Homo sapiens: one gene and its partner. Changing the gene in region 1 together with any one later gene gives a genetic interaction. Each region holds a gene or a part of one and is shown on either strand. Other genes may lie near its edges.

Evidence for each region. A genetic interaction does not mean that the proteins touch.
Region 2: changes in TRAPPC12 (region 1) and HSP90AB1 together harm fitness more than expected from each alone (negative genetic interaction), as found in Homo sapiens cells (one large-scale study listed by BioGRID).

What each region holds. Positions count from the first base shown.
Region 1 is NC_000002.12:3,476,112-3,480,894, reverse strand, and holds the end of TRAPPC12 (trafficking protein particle complex subunit 12), read right to left. Parts: intron 3,201-4,783; coding exon 3,100-3,200; intron 2,303-3,099; exon of another isoform or gene 2,050-2,302; coding exon 1,962-2,049; exon of another isoform or gene 1,677-1,961; coding exon 1,434-1,676; 3' UTR 1,330-1,433; downstream 1-1,329. UniProt on the Homo sapiens protein: Component of the TRAPP complex, which is involved in endoplasmic reticulum to Golgi apparatus trafficking at a very early stage.
Region 2 is NC_000006.12:44,249,283-44,254,391, forward strand, and holds the end of HSP90AB1 (heat shock protein HSP 90-beta), read left to right. Parts: intron 1-94; coding exon 95-301; intron 302-392; coding exon 393-552; intron 553-738; coding exon 739-872; intron 873-1,008; coding exon 1,009-1,317; intron 1,318-1,765; coding exon 1,766-1,931; intron 1,932-2,135; coding exon 2,136-2,326; intron 2,327-2,454; coding exon 2,455-2,602; intron 2,603-2,716; coding exon 2,717-2,985; intron 2,986-3,762; coding exon 3,763-4,096; intron 4,097-4,206; coding exon 4,207-4,316; 3' UTR 4,317-4,601; downstream 4,602-5,109. UniProt on the Homo sapiens protein: Molecular chaperone that promotes the maturation, structural maintenance and proper regulation of specific target proteins involved for instance in cell cycle control and signal transduction. Undergoes a functional cycle linked to its ATPase activity.

The DNA.
Region 1 (4,783 bases):
CAGCAGCATGGGGGTGGGGCTTGGGAGGGAGGGTGGATTTAGGCTTACCAGCTTACTAGGGAACTTTGATCTCTGTTTCTGATTTGCCGGGCTCATGTCTAGCTGGAGCCTGGGCACTGCTGTCTGCTTTCCCGCACAACTGGCCGGGGACAGCTCTGAGCCCCGAGCCTGTAAAGGACGGGCTCCATAATCCTCTGGCAAATCCTGTAAGATGCCTGCAGTAAGGTGCCAGGTTGGAGCAGAGGAAGAGCCTTACACTTCATCCCTGAAGTCACATTTGAAGGAAGACCCTCAAGGTGGAGGGCTTCTAATTACATCTTCATCTTTCTGGGCTTAACAATAGTTTCAGTTCTCTTTTTGAAGAGAAAGATCTTGAAACCTCCTTGGTGTCCAACAGTCCTTTTGGCTGTCTCACCTCTTTTTTCTTTTCTTTTAATGCATAATTAATCTAGATGTCAGCAAATGGGCTGAGACTGTCTGGTAGATGCAGTGTTTGTATGTTTCTACTCTATTACAAAAATTAACAGAAATATGGCTTCGCTTTGTGCAAATGTTTATATCACAGTCTGTAAAATGAATTATATTTAAAACTATCCACAAAGCTAGATATTTAGAGAACCCTTGGCAGAGTTCTTTCGTAAAGTGAAGACATTTTCAGGTACTTTAAGTTCTTCAAAAGCAGGAATAACTGTGTAAACGTAAGGGCAAAAGGCCTTTCAGGCATGAGAGAACACATGAAAACACGTGTCTGGCTTCAAAACCACCCCCAGCCCCTGCCTGCCTGCGTTTTACGCGCTCTTCCTGTGCTTCATTATGCGTCGTGCTTCCTGTTCCACTCAGCTCACTCTCCACGTGGACGTATAAACTATGGGAGAAACAGTGATGGCCTCTCCTCCACCGCCAGGCTGGCAGGGGTCGTTTGGCTGGCATCAGGCTGGAGGAGACTCGGATGGGTAAGACCAACGCACTTAGTTTTGGGTGTGTGGGGAGGGCAAGAGGAGCATGAGCGGCGATCTGTGGGGGGTGTCTTCCCTGTTGTAAATCTCCCTGTACGTGCAGGTGCACGGCGAGAGGGTCTCCACACCTCCCAGCTTTTCTCTGAGGATGTCCAGAAGGAACGAGCAAAGCAGGATTGGCCTCCAGAACAGAGGCCCCGAGGCTGACTCCAGATTTCCTGTCTACGAGCTGTGTCCTCCCAGCACGCCTGCCCCTTGCATTCATGAACAGTGACCCAGCTGCAGGGACTGCGTGGCTGAACGCCGACCAACTGCGGGGAAGTCCTGGGCTGGGCCGTGGCTTGGGACCAAGAAGACACGCAGCAGACACCAGTGAAGCAGGAGTTTTATTGAGTTCCTCCATGTCACATTAATACATTAGCTTCAAGACACAGTTTCAAAGACCCGGGTCCTTCTGACGTAGTGTGTTGGAGGCAGCTAGGCCAGCTTGAGGCACTGTGTGTTGAAGCTGTCCCCCTCCTTGCCGGCGACAGCCTCCAGCAGGGCCTGTTTCTTCTGCATGCTCCGTGAGGACTCCAGCTCGTACATGGTGGTCAGGTTGAAGAGCACGCTCTCGTGCAGGTAGTGCCTGGGGTCCTGCTGGACCATGGCCTCCAGCTGCCGCAGGGAGTCCTTGAGCTTGCCCAGGTAGAGCAGACACACGGCAGCGTTGTTGTTGGCCTAGGGAGGAGCACACGCCCAGGGTTGGCCCACACAACCAGGACAGACGCCCGCCCATTCCAGGCTGCGTGCTGGGCCGTGTTAGGGGCCTGGGGGTGGTGCAGAGCTGCTGGGCAGAGCCTAGGTGGCCCTGTTGGGTCACTTCCCCTAAGGGCCACAGCCACTGCCTGGAGCTGGTGGACTGGAGAGAGAGAGCGCAGGCCCCTGCTGAGACGTGTGTGGGTGTATGTTTCTAGCGTCTGTGAAAGGCAGAGGATGGAGGATCCTGCAGCTTGGGGATCTTACCACTGCGTTTCTTGGATCCATCCTTAAGATCTCTGTGAAGAACCTGTGGGCTTCTGCAAAGTTATTCTGCCCGAGGTGAAGGAACGCGCTGTAACACAAGCAACGGTGGCAGTTAGCGGGGAAAGCCCAGGAGCTGCTGTCCCCCAACACAACCCACAGGGGCTTTGGATCCCACAGAGACCCAGCGTATGGCCCTGTGTGGCCCGGGGTTCCTGATCTCCAGGTAGAGGCGGTGAGCTGCGTTTTGCATTCAGGCTCGCACATTAAAGCCACTCTAGTTTTTATTTATTTTTATTTTTTAGATGGAGTTTTGCTCTCGTTGCCCAGGCTGTAGTGCAGTGGCACGATCTCGGCTCACCGCAACCTCCGCCTCCTGGATTCAAGCAACTCTCCTGCCTCAGCCTCCCAAGTAGCTGGGATTACAGGCGACTGCCACCACGCCTGGCTAATTTTTTGTATTTTTAGTAGAGATGGGGTTTCACCATGTTGGCCAGGCTGGCCTCAAACTCCTGACCTCAAGTGATCTACGTGCCTCAGCTTCCCAAAGTGCTGAGATTACAGGCATGAGCCACTGCACCCGGCCAAGCCACTCTAGTTTTTGTTAATTGAGATAGAGTAACTTCACCTAAATGACTTCCTGCTAAAAGCGGACACCTGCTTTATTTACGCTTTCTGATCCTGGCTGCAGGCTTTGTCCAAGGCGTGTTTCCTCCTCACGAACGTGCACTCGCACGACGCTGTGCGTTCTACCACAGAACACCAGAGCACGGGATCCAGACACAGAACACCAGAGCACGGGATCCAGACACAGAACACCAGAGCACAGGATCCAGAACGGCCGCTACGCCAGCAATGGTGACCTTTACACACACATACGCTGAAAACGGGGGCAATACAAGCGCTTCTCTGAAGAACAAGGGGGAATAGCTCCTTAAAAATCAGCTTCTGTGACTAAAAGAACATCACTGCGATTCAAGAAAACACCTGTATACTCCTTGGGTCTCCGCTCTGAGAGACACAGGGCAAGAGGAGATACAGGGAGAAGCGCCTTCTCTAGGGAGCTTTCCAACTCAGTAAGTGGGGCTTGAACGCCTCTGGGAAATTTGAGAAAACATATATTTAGTTTTAAAATATTTACCTGTTCATCAAAACCATGATTTTACCCTGTAGTCCATCTAATTTCTGTGTTACTTTCTCAACGTCTTGAAAATACTTTTCAGCTGTTTTTATGTCTCCAATCTGCTTTGACAAAATTTAGTCAGTTTAGTTGACAAAAGAAATATTAAGTCTATACTCATATATTTAGTTCCCTAATATCATGTTAGAATATGAAGACATTTATATGTCAGGCAGAGGAAAACTTCAGTAACCATTTAATCATTTTTTAATAAAAAGGCAAAAGACATTTAAGATACAGTGGAATGTTAATGTTCTATATGTCAGAAACTAAGTTGCTAATATACACGCCTTATTTAAGAGTCTTATAGTTTAGTAATTTTTACCTTTTGGAATGAATTCTGGCAGAGCATTAGATAAAATAAAATGAATAACTAATAAGATGAAACATAAAATACTTAAAATATTGGTATAATATGAGCAGGTCCTACGTCAACTTATGAGTTACTTGTGGCTAGTAAAATGGTAGGTGCCACCACATTTGCAAATTGCAAAGTAATATTTTGACCAAATAATATAGAATTCAACTGTAAAAAACAAGCCAAACCAAACTCAAACCCACTCTTATCACGCATGTCAGGAAACCCACCGGCTGCCCGACTGAAATGCAGCCGGATGCAGCAGGCCTGTGGCAGAGGAGGCCTGGGGGGTGGAAGGCTGAGTGCCCCAGCCCTGACTCCTGAGGCCACAGCTTGGTTTTACAAAGGCAGACTTGGGTTTTCTTTCACCTCTAGAAGTGTAAGGAAGGGAATAAATGATCTAAGGCTTACAATAAGAAATAGATACAAATGAAAGAAAAGTCCTATTATGGCCCAAGCCGCGCTCACGAGGGTAAAGACAGAGTTGCTTTGTGTCCGGGGCACAGCCTGCGGGAGCCAGAATGTGACAGCGAGCTCTGTTATCATGGCAGCAGCAGAAACTTAACAGAATGCTGTCCTCTGTCTCGATGAGAAACAAGCTGAATGCGCGCGGCTCACCTCCATGAGGAGGGCTGGGGCACCCATCACTATCATACTGAGCAGCCTAGTTAACTCTTAGACTGTCCACGCCAAGCATCTGTCCAGCATTAAAACAAGCCTGCTAACTTCTCAGATGACTGGTGGGGAGATGGTTCTCCATGGGTGTCATGTTTCTGCATGTCTTCCAAGCACAGACAGTGACAAGGCTTTGTTCAAAGCATTTACACAAGGATGCCTGTTTAGAGGACAGCCTTGTAAGCTAAACTGCATCCCTCTGGGGCAAAGGGCAGGCAGGCTCGCCTCCCAGTAGCAAGGATTTGGGTGTTCTAAGTTCAGGATTCCTCTCCAGCCACACAGCCCACTGCAGGCCTCATGAGGCCCTCGGTGAAGACCCTGAGGAATCAGGGCCCCGTGGCTGGTGGGAAGAATGCCACTCTGGCTGTACTGCTGTTGCTGTGTAATAAATAGCCTTCCTCTCTAACGTAGGAATCTTACATTTTTTGCCAGCATCCATGAAAGTGGCAGCTAACTCCACAGCTTGGAAACAGGATAACATCTCAGGCCCTTCACAACTGTTGCTGTTATCCCACAAAAGAAATACCATACGAGGAGGAAGAAAAAACAGAATGAAACAAGAGAAAACACAGGCGTGCACACACACCACACACTGAATGGCATCTGTCCATC
Region 2 (5,109 bases), on another chromosome or scaffold:
GAGCTGTCATCCTTGCCACTGCACTGTAGCTTGGGCAACAGAGCAAGAGTCTGTCTTGGAAAGAGCAAAAGTAAGTTGCTGTTTGTATTTCCAGGCCTTGGACAAGATTCGCTATGAGAGCCTGACAGACCCTTCGAAGTTGGACAGTGGTAAAGAGCTGAAAATTGACATCATCCCCAACCCTCAGGAACGTACCCTGACTTTGGTAGACACAGGCATTGGCATGACCAAAGCTGATCTCATAAATAATTTGGGAACCATTGCCAAGTCTGGTACTAAAGCATTCATGGAGGCTCTTCAGGTATTGCAGTTCTGTAGGCATTCATACTTATCTGTGTTCTTTGGTTTTTTGCTTCTTTAAAACTTGTGATTGACTTTAAACTTGTTGGCAGGCTGGTGCAGACATCTCCATGATTGGGCAGTTTGGTGTTGGCTTTTATTCTGCCTACTTGGTGGCAGAGAAAGTGGTTGTGATCACAAAGCACAACGATGATGAACAGTATGCTTGGGAGTCTTCTGCTGGAGGTTCCTTCACTGTGCGTGCTGACCATGGTAAGTTAGCTTTTCTGTTACAAGGTAGTTGGGTTAGGATTTTCTGGGCTCACACCAGTAGCAGAAATTTTGGGCATCCTGTCTGTAAAGCAGTTCTTCACAGCAGTTCTGCTGATACTTACTAATTGCTGGTCTCAACTGCATATACTTTTTACCCTGTTACACGCTTGTAATTGACTCTTCTAGGTGAGCCCATTGGCAGGGGTACCAAAGTGATCCTCCATCTTAAAGAAGATCAGACAGAGTACCTAGAAGAGAGGCGGGTCAAAGAAGTAGTGAAGAAGCATTCTCAGTTCATAGGCTATCCCATCACCCTTTATGTGAGTATGGACTTTTAAATCTTTTACACTTAACGTGCAGGATGTTTCCTGTTCTGGAGAATCTCATTGTCCCTGGCTTTTGCTTTCCCTGGTAGTGTTTTGTACTCCAAGGCTAACTTCTGTTTTTGTTACTTAGTTGGAGAAGGAACGAGAGAAGGAAATTAGTGATGATGAGGCAGAGGAAGAGAAAGGTGAGAAAGAAGAGGAAGATAAAGATGATGAAGAAAAACCCAAGATCGAAGATGTGGGTTCAGATGAGGAGGATGACAGCGGTAAGGATAAGAAGAAGAAAACTAAGAAGATCAAAGAGAAATACATTGATCAGGAAGAACTAAACAAGACCAAGCCTATTTGGACCAGAAACCCTGATGACATCACCCAAGAGGAGTATGGAGAATTCTACAAGAGCCTCACTAATGACTGGGAAGACCACTTGGCAGTCAAGGTGTGAGAAGCCTTTGCATGTTGGCTCAACATGCACATATGGAGAGGAATGAGTTAGGTGGAAGAGTGTTGGGTAATAGACACACGGAACTTGTCCAACTGATAACAGAAATGTGATAGCCATGTGATTTCACTTACTGATTACCCTGTCATAGTGAAGTGCCATCATTTCTAATGACCTCACTTTCTCTTCTTATGGAAATCTGGGTAATGTCTATTGGCAGCCTTACACATCCAGGGTTCTGATCAGAGGGGACTGTTTTCTACATACAGCTAGTACCCATCTAGATCGTGGAGGGCATTAAGGCTCAGTTTTCTCAGGAGCTGCTTGTTGTGTGTGCTCTATCCCTTAGGCTTAGGGAGGATCATTGTTCCACTTTTAGATAATTTGGTGTTGGGGCTAAAAGGTCCTCTTTTGAAATGTACCACTTATTTTTGGTTTCTTTCAGCACTTTTCTGTAGAAGGTCAGTTGGAATTCAGGGCATTGCTATTTATTCCTCGTCGGGCTCCCTTTGACCTTTTTGAGAACAAGAAGAAAAAGAACAACATCAAACTCTATGTCCGCCGTGTGTTCATCATGGACAGCTGTGATGAGTTGATACCAGAGTATCTCAGTGAGTATCTCCTTGGCCTAATTTAGTTGGGTGAAGTCTTGGGAGGTTTTAGGCATTCTGCTAGGATATTCTAAGGTAACAGTTTTCTGCAATACATAGTAGGTGTAAGGGTTCAGGAGGCTATTAGAGCCTTCTGTTTGAATCTGGGGACCAGGTCTGGTCTAGCTGTTTTTTACTGAGCTTTCTCACCCTGGTTGATGGCAGATTTTATCCGTGGTGTGGTTGACTCTGAGGATCTGCCCCTGAACATCTCCCGAGAAATGCTCCAGCAGAGCAAAATCTTGAAAGTCATTCGCAAAAACATTGTTAAGAAGTGCCTTGAGCTCTTCTCTGAGCTGGCAGAAGACAAGGAGAATTACAAGAAATTCTATGAGGCATTCTCTAAAAATCTCAAGGTAAAAAGGCAAATAATGCTTATTCCCTTTACCACTTTCTTAGTAATAACAATAAATTATTCCATTCACATTGAAAGTGAAGTTATTGTAGTTAAGCTGGATTGTTTTTCCTCTTCCCACCCTTCAAGCTTGGAATCCACGAAGACTCCACTAACCGCCGCCGCCTGTCTGAGCTGCTGCGCTATCATACCTCCCAGTCTGGAGATGAGATGACATCTCTGTCAGAGTATGTTTCTCGCATGAAGGAGACACAGAAGTCCATCTATTACATCACTGGTGCGTTGACTCTGATTGAAGCCTTTTTGGAGGAGTGGGGAGCACAATTAGGGCTTCCTGGGAACTGGCAGTATGAGGCATTTTAGTCACTGAGTTCATTTAATTACCCTACAGGTGAGAGCAAAGAGCAGGTGGCCAACTCAGCTTTTGTGGAGCGAGTGCGGAAACGGGGCTTCGAGGTGGTATATATGACCGAGCCCATTGACGAGTACTGTGTGCAGCAGCTCAAGGAATTTGATGGGAAGAGCCTGGTCTCAGTTACCAAGGAGGGTCTGGAGCTGCCTGAGGATGAGGAGGAGAAGAAGAAGATGGAAGAGAGCAAGGCAAAGTTTGAGAACCTCTGCAAGCTCATGAAAGAAATCTTAGATAAGAAGGTTGAGAAGGTAAGCCATTCTGGGGCTAGGATATATTTTGTAACATCTTCGAGGTGGGCTCCCTCACAAGCATGTTTCTATACAATTAGTGGTTTGAGGCAGCCTATTTACTGTTTCATGCCTTCTTGCCTCTTGTTCTCTTCTCTAGTCAGGTTTAAGGCTATTTTAATAAAATTTGGCACAGATTAGGCATTGCTTCAGTTAACTTCTGAGAGTAGATAAAATACCATCATTTTCTTTTTTTTTTCTTTTTTTGAGATGGGGTCTCGCTCTGTCACCCAGGCTGGAGTGCAGTGGCACGATCTCTGCTCATTGCAAGCTCCGCCTCCTGGGTTCACGCCATTCTCCTGCCTTAGCCTCCTGAGTAGCTGCCACTACAGGCGCCCGCCACCACACCCCGGCTAATTTTTTGTATTTTTAGTAGAGATGGGGTTTCATCGCGTTAGCCAGGATGGTCTCCATCTCCTGACCTTGTGATTCGCCCACCTCGGCCTCCCAAAGTGCTGGGATTAACAGGCGCAAGCCACCATGCCTGGCCGATTTTTTTTTTTTTTGGACTGGATCTCGCTCACTGCAAACTCAAGTCTCCTGAGTGGCTGGGATTACAGATGTGTGCTACCACACCCGGTTAATTTTTTGTAGACAGGGTTTTGCCATGTTGGCCAGCATGGTCTCAAACTCAAGTGGTCTGTCCACCTCCTCCCCCTGCTGGAATTAGGCTTGACAATGCCTGTTTTCTCTTTCAAAGTGGTAATGTCAATCTAAGGCTTTTGTGATCGTCCACAGGTGACAATCTCCAATAGACTTGTGTCTTCACCTTGCTGCATTGTGACCAGCACCTACGGCTGGACAGCCAATATGGAGCGGATCATGAAAGCCCAGGCACTTCGGGACAACTCCACCATGGGCTATATGATGGCCAAAAAGCACCTGGAGATCAACCCTGACCACCCCATTGTGGAGACGCTGCGGCAGAAGGCTGAGGCCGACAAGAATGATAAGGCAGTTAAGGACCTGGTGGTGCTGCTGTTTGAAACCGCCCTGCTATCTTCTGGCTTTTCCCTTGAGGATCCCCAGACCCACTCCAACCGCATCTATCGCATGATCAAGCTAGGTCTAGGTAAGTAGCTTTGGTACTTGGTGTGGCAAGGAGTTTGTGCAACTCGTCTCCTCTATGGATTTGACTTAATGCTATTTGGTCAAGTCTCACATGGCTTAATTTTACTTCAGGTATTGATGAAGATGAAGTGGCAGCAGAGGAACCCAATGCTGCAGTTCCTGATGAGATCCCCCCTCTCGAGGGCGATGAGGATGCGTCTCGCATGGAAGAAGTCGATTAGGTTAGGAGTTCATAGTTGGAAAACTTGTGCCCTTGTATAGTGTCCCCATGGGCTCCCACTGCAGCCTCGAGTGCCCCTGTCCCACCTGGCTCCCCCTGCTGGTGTCTAGTGTTTTTTTCCCTCTCCTGTCCTTGTGTTGAAGGCAGTAAACTAAGGGTGTCAAGCCCCATTCCCTCTCTACTCTTGACAGCAGGATTGGATGTTGTGTATTGTGGTTTATTTTATTTTCTTCATTTTGTTCTGAAATTAAAGTATGCAAAATAAAGAATATGCCGTTTTTATACAGTTCTGCTTTCCCTTGTGAAGTGGATGTTATCCTTCCCTAGCTTCTTCATCCCTCCAGCTCTTGCTGTTTTCATGAGCACAGCAAGTTGAGCTGGTTTTGTAGTGAAAATAACAGAATACCAGTGAGTCTTAAGAGTTCACACACTGAAGCTAAAGGCAGTTTGGAAAAACTACCATATAATAATGCCCTTTCAGTCAACCAAAACACAGGACCAAGTCCACTGCAGTAATTTAATTTAATAAAATAAAATTATAAGAGCAAAAAGTTACATTTCTAAAGTACCAAAACCTGCAACAGGCTCATGGAACAGAGCCTAGGGATCCAGGAGCATAGGAGGTGGTGGTGCTGGGCAGGGCTCTGCATCCCCTTTCCTCAGCACAGCACCATCTTCACCCTCCTGGGAAAGCAGCATTGGAGCCTACACCGCTTGTGCTTTTCTCACCAGGGTAAGAAATGCAGGTATTTGCAGAGGGGAGTGAGTCTGGAAGGTGGCAGAGCACAGCTAGG